2 separate regions of the Homo sapiens genome follow, and region 2 is linked to region 1. The links come from fine-mapping of genetic effects on gene expression. A gene starts in region 1. The other region holds a variant in brackets. All regions are shown on one strand. Distances are between the middles of the regions. Region 1 holds the start of VIPR2 (vasoactive intestinal peptide receptor 2). Region 2 overlaps VIPR2 (vasoactive intestinal peptide receptor 2).

What was found. PIP is the estimated chance that this variant, and not a neighbour inherited with it, causes the effect. A credible set is the group of variants that fine-mapping cannot tell apart.
Region 2: its variant is the best candidate, but not a certain one, in a credible set for the expression of VIPR2 in whole blood (TOPMed, PIP 0.72).

The regions. Positions count from the first base shown.
Region 1 is chr7:159,143,355-159,146,262 of GRCh38, reverse strand. VIPR2 (vasoactive intestinal peptide receptor 2) reads left to right here and starts at 1,396. Exons shown (of 13, transcript NM_003382.5): 1 at 1,396-1,542. The coding sequence starts at 1,492.
Region 2 is chr7:159,055,578-159,058,485 of GRCh38, reverse strand. It overlaps VIPR2 (vasoactive intestinal peptide receptor 2), which reads left to right. Exons shown (of 13, transcript NM_003382.5): 5 at 1-5. Among named protein-coding and RNA genes, the nearest start is that of LINC00689, 49 kb to the right of the region's middle. RefSeq lists an enhancer at 1-509. The variant CTTATAT/T (reference allele first, on the strand shown) is at 1,201.

The DNA of each region.
Region 1 (2,908 bases):
AAGGTGGATGATAGATGATAGGCGCATGATGATAGATACCTGACAGATGGATAGATGAAAGGTAGATGATGGACAGGTAGATGATAGATGACAGATAATAGATGACAGATTACAGATAGATGATCGATAGGAAGATGATAGATGATAGGTACATGACAGATCGATAGATGATACGTAGATGATGGATAGGTAGATGATAGATAATGTGGATGATAAACATCAGATGATAGAAAAATCGATATCTGTGAATACGGGGGGTGGGGGATCAGAGAGAAGCAAATGATAAGCCCAATGAGGTAAATGTTAATGACCGAATCCACAAAAAGGATAAAAAGGAGTTATTTGTAATATTCTTATTCTTCTAATTTTTGTGTAAGTTTGAAATTATTTCCAAATAAAAAATTAAAACAACACGAACTTAACTTGTATCTCTCATTCCAGTGCTTTCCACTTGCTGGGGAACGCCGAGCTCTCCTGGGTTGGTCACGCGGGCGCCTTGGGAGGCCGCGCAGTCCCGCGTGGGGCGCGGCGGGGCGGCCCCAGTGGCACCGCGTGAGTCCCCGCCCAGCGTTCCCCACCCGCCGCCGCGTTTGCGGGGAGAGAATGACCCCCGTTTTGCAAACGCAGGACACAAAACCCGCCACCCAGCTGAGGCTGGGACCCACCTATACCCCCGTCTGCGTTTTTCTCCAGCTTTCTGTTCGACCTGATGTCCTCTTTGAGGCTGCGGGGATCCCCACCAAAAAGCACTCTGATTTTCTCCATTTTCAGATGCCCCAACCTAGCCCCACTGGCTACAAAGACGGCGCGCCCACCCCGGACGGGTCTCTGGCCGCTTTCTTGGGCTTCCGCAGTTGTTTAGAAAGGCAGGTACAGGCGGCCGCAAAGGCATCCGCCCCTTCCGAGCGCACACCTGGCCCGGTCCTCCTCTCCCGGCCCCGCGCCGGCCGCTCTCCCCCAGTTCTCTCTACTCGGAGCCGGGCGCGCACTGAGCACCCCGCTTCCCAGCCCCTCCGCCCACAGATCGGGGAGGCGCGGCCGGGAGGGGGGCGTGGGCCAGGGAAGAGGGGAGGAGAACGGAGAGAGAGGCTGGGGGGGTCGAGGAGACCAGAGGGAGCGCGCGCGGCGGGGACAGAGAGCCCAGGGGCGAGGAGAGGGCGCGGGGCGCAGCGGAAGGGGAAGTGGGGGGCGGTGAGGAGGGGCGCGGAGCGGGGGTTCTCGGGGGAGGAGGGAGACGAGGATTGGGGCAGCGCGGGGCGGGGACAGGGGCGGGGGGCGGAGCGGCGGGGCGCGTGGGGGACGGGCGTGCATTGAGCGCGCTCCAGCTGCCGGGACGGAGGGGGCGGCCCCCGCGCTCGGGCGCTCGGCTACAGCTGCGGGGCCCGAGGTCTCCGCGCACTCGCTCCCGGCCCATGCTGGAGGCGGCGGAACCGCGGGGACCTAGGACGGAGGCGGCGGGCGCTGGGCGGCCCCCGGCACGCTGAGCTCGGGATGCGGACGCTGCTGCCTCCCGCGCTGCTGACCTGCTGGCTGCTCGCCCCCGTGAGTGCGCCCGCGACCCCCGCCCCACGGCGCCTCGGACCCGGTTCTCCCCTTCCGAGAAGAGCGCTCCTCCCGCCGGTCTTCGCCTTCCTCCCGGGTGCTGGAGCGCGGGCGGGGTCCGGGAGAGGGAGCGGGGTCGCCCGGGGTCCGGAGCTTCCTCCCGGAGAGCGTGAAGCGCTGAGCTCCGGTCCCGCCGGGTTGCGGGACTCGGGTTGGGAGGCTGCCTGCGCCCTTCCCCGCGCCCCACCGTCCGGGGTTTGCTGGAAACGGGATCGTTTCTTCCTGGACGCGTCAACGATGAGCTCGTTCGGGGCCGTCCCGGGAGCTGGGAGCTGCGGGCGCCTGCGCGGGCTGCGCGTTTCACGGGGAGATCGGGGTTGGCGTTGGCCGCAGATGCCTCTCGGTCCCTCCCTGTACTTACTGGTTAGTTTTAGTGTCGGGGGGACGTGGCGTCGGTTAAATAAAGTTTCCTTTTGGAAATAGTTGCTTTTTCCCAAGGGCACTGGAGGAACTAACTGCTCATAAGTTTGTTGATTAAGTGCCTTCGCACATGGAGTTCTGAATTATTCCCTCTGTGAACCTTAAAAAAAAAGGAAAGAAAAAAGAAAGAAAAAAACCCGAGCCTTGTTTCTTGCTTTCCTCTTGGAGACTGAAGCGGGTTTGCGGTGCGCGCGGTTTTCGTGCGCGTCGCAGCCGAGGCAGGTCTGGATCGATCCGCGGCCCCTCCGCAGCTGGGAGGCTGCGCTGCTGACCCGACAGTGTCATTGATTAACCGGCGACGCCCGGTCTGCAGCGGGGCTCGAGCCACACTCCCTGGCCTTGCGCGGAGGCGCAGCTCGGCTTTCCTCCCTCGAGGGTGGGCGCTTTGCGGAGCGGGTCCTTGGAAAGTAACGGGTTTTATCACGGTTAATGCTGCTTTCATTGCTAAAATGTCCTAAAAGAAGTCATTGCTGTGCATATTCCAGGAACGTCAGGTATTATTAATGTCTTTTACACTTTAACAAAGTTTTTCTTTTTACATCAATATAATTTCCTTAATTCTGAAATTTAAGCCACTTACTTGTCCTGCATGAAAACAGAGGACTTGGAGCCCAAAGTCAGTGCCTGGTGCTGGTTCAGTCACGAGCAAGAAGCAAGCTCGGGGCTCTTTTAAATGGGGCTGAAGGTGGCAGAAGTTCCAGCATTGTTTTCCCCTTAATTCTGTTAGGATATTGTGTTCCTGGTTGGAACTCTCATTGACCATTTCAATAGTAAGATAACTAAACATAGATGGCCATAGTACGCCCAACAGTATGATTCTCTTTAGTTACTACTTTAGTACAAGTAGAATTTTGGTCGGTGGTGGGGGAGGGGGAAGATCAAGACC
Region 2 (2,908 bases), 88 kb after region 1:
TTCAGGTAAGGAGCAGAAATTAGTAATTCTGCAAAGAATACAAGACAAGCAAAGTTTCCATTTAGGCCTTCTAGGCGCCACCCAGCCTGGAGCCCTCTGTGTGCTAAGCCAATAAGACTCCCATGGAGAATGCTGCCATTAAATATGATGTTAACATTTACATTTTTATTTAAATACTCTGCATTTATTATGTAAAGAGATAATGCTGACCTTGGATAGGAACTCAGCTCAGCTATCATTTATTAAATACTTAGCCATTATGCAAATGCGTGGAAAATACAGAAAAAATAGGATCTCACCCTTGCCATCCAGAAGCTCCTGTGTTTTGGCTGTAGGTGCTCTATTAGAGAGATGCTACGACGTGTTTAAGAGCATGAAGGTGGAGTCAGGCTGTCTGGGTTCAAATCCTGGGTCAGTCTCTTAGCAGCTGTGTGACCTTGGACAAAGTACTTAACTTGTCTGTGCTTCTGTAATGTGTGGAGACTAAGAAGCCCCCTTCAGAGGGCTGTTGTGAGAACTTGATGTGTCGGTAGATGTGAAGGGCTTAGCATGGCACGTGAGGTTGTGATGAGGGCTTATTAAATGCTGCCCACTCTTCCCTGGCAGTGAGGTGAGATGGCCCCTGCACACCTGCATCTTTAGTGGGTCTCTTGGTAACTAATGATGACATAGTGCAGATGATTTGACCAATCAAATCATTGTTCATTTGGGTTGGGGGTAGAGGTTTTGGTCCCAGAACGGCAGTTTCTCTATAGGAAGAGCTCTGGTGAATTAGGATTAAATCTGTCTTACGTATCATTAGCACTAAATAAAATGGAGGCTATTCAGCTTATTCTATGTATCAATCACTACATATTTTATTTCTCTTTGCTAAAATGTAATCGAAATGTTTGCCAGTATGTCAGATAAAAATCAATGATAAATGGAATATTTCTAGACCCTAACAACAGTCCATTAGGAGATCCATACTTGGAAGTGTAAAATAAACAAGTTAGGAGTGGTTGAGAATCCAGCTAAGAAAGCCAGCAAATGTAATTGAGCTATGCTTTTTATTGTTCAGGCATCTCAACTATGGTTGGTAATTCTCAGAAAGAATAAGTCTACCTTTGATACAGGGCTGCACTTTGAAAAGTGAGGAAGGCCTATCATATTCTAGTTATTTTTAAAATCTGGTACAATATTAATATTTGTTCTATTATA[CTTATAT/T]TTTATAGAGTATAATTTACTATATATGTTTACTATTTTACTGTATATGTTTAAATTTTTAAGTTGCTAAAGAGAAAGAGGAAAACTTTAAGGAAGTAAGCTGACCCAGGGAAATTGAATCTGAAAATTTTATCTTATTTTCCTATATTGAACAATCCCTATTTTTTACACACATCTGTTTCCTTCACATATGTACAGCATGACATATTTAATTAGGCAACCCAAGAGCATCAGGAATTATCCCGCCTATGAACACTGATCCTTTAGGGCACAGAACACACCCCTCCATCTGTAGGCATCATTCGTCACCTGCCTGTGGCACTTCTGAGCTGAAAAAAGTGCATGTCTGTGTTGGATGTCATTCTGCTGGTGACCACATAGTGTCCAGAGCTGGTGTGCAGCTCTAGGCTTGGGGCTCATCCCACGTCCTTCTGTCAGAAGCAGGGTCCAGTGCCACTTCCTGAGAGCTGTGAGAGTCTGTCAATTCTAAAGTCCGAATTATAAAAATAACGTGCTCCATTGTCTCAGTAATTATACCCAGGAAGCAGAATGCTTTGCGGGCATTGAACATTTCTTCTCCAAAATAGCCCAATAAGCCAAGAAAGCCTTCAGTAGCCATGTTCTTATTTTATACACGGGAAATGGAGCTACTTACTTCTTAGAACACATCCCAAAGTGTGCAGTGTTGACGCTCACAACAAATACAGGACCAGCTTTGTAGGGGAGTCATCCTATGGTGACAGCTGCCCCTGTGACCCAGGGACTGACAGAGACGGTTCCAGTCCATGCCAGTCCAGCAGGGTCCACAGCACGGTTGCTCCTCAGACAACACGGGTTTGAACTGCATGGTCCACTTCTCTGAGAATGTTTTTCAATACAGTCAGCCCTCTGTATTGATGGATACCACAGATCAGAAGTATGGCCTATTCTCAGGATGAGAAGCCTGCAGATACAGAGGACCAGCTTCATATATCCACGGGTCCTGAAGGGGCAAATGTGGGACTTGCACATTCATGGACTTTGGCATGGGGTAAGGGGGGCAAGATTGGGGGAGGGGGATTGGACCCAATCCCCTGTGGATACCAAGGGACAGCTGTAACTGCTAATATGCACCGTGTCAAGTACTTTACAGATGTTAACATCATCAGGTAAGTACTGCCACTGACCCAGTTTCTCCAGGTGGAGAGTGCAGCCCCAGGAAGGTCGCTGGACATTGCAGGGTTGCTGAGCTGGTGCACGCAGAGCCCTGATTTCAACCCAGGCTCTCATCACTGCAGCCTGCACCTCTGTCACTGTCAGATGGACGTGGCCTCCAAAATCCTTTCCCACCATTGCTAATGAGCAGACTCTGGTCCCCCTTTCCGGAAGCCACACTTTCTACTACCTCCATTGCCCATTGGCAGATCCATACGTGGAAGTGAAAATTTAAAACGAGCAGTGAGTAATGAAGAATATCACTGAGAAACCCAGCAAACATGTATTTGGATGGCTTGCTAACTGGACCAAAAGCATGCTCATCTCTGAGCAATGGCTGTAAGTGCCAACCCCACTCCACAGAAACACAGGGGGTGGAAGAGAGAGGGAAGGAGAAAAAATAAGAGAGGGAAAAAGGTGATTTGGAGAGATGAATGCAGCCAAGGAGAGAATCAGTGGGAAGCAAAACGGCACCGGTGGGGGACATTTGCCTTCTGAGGAAGGGGTG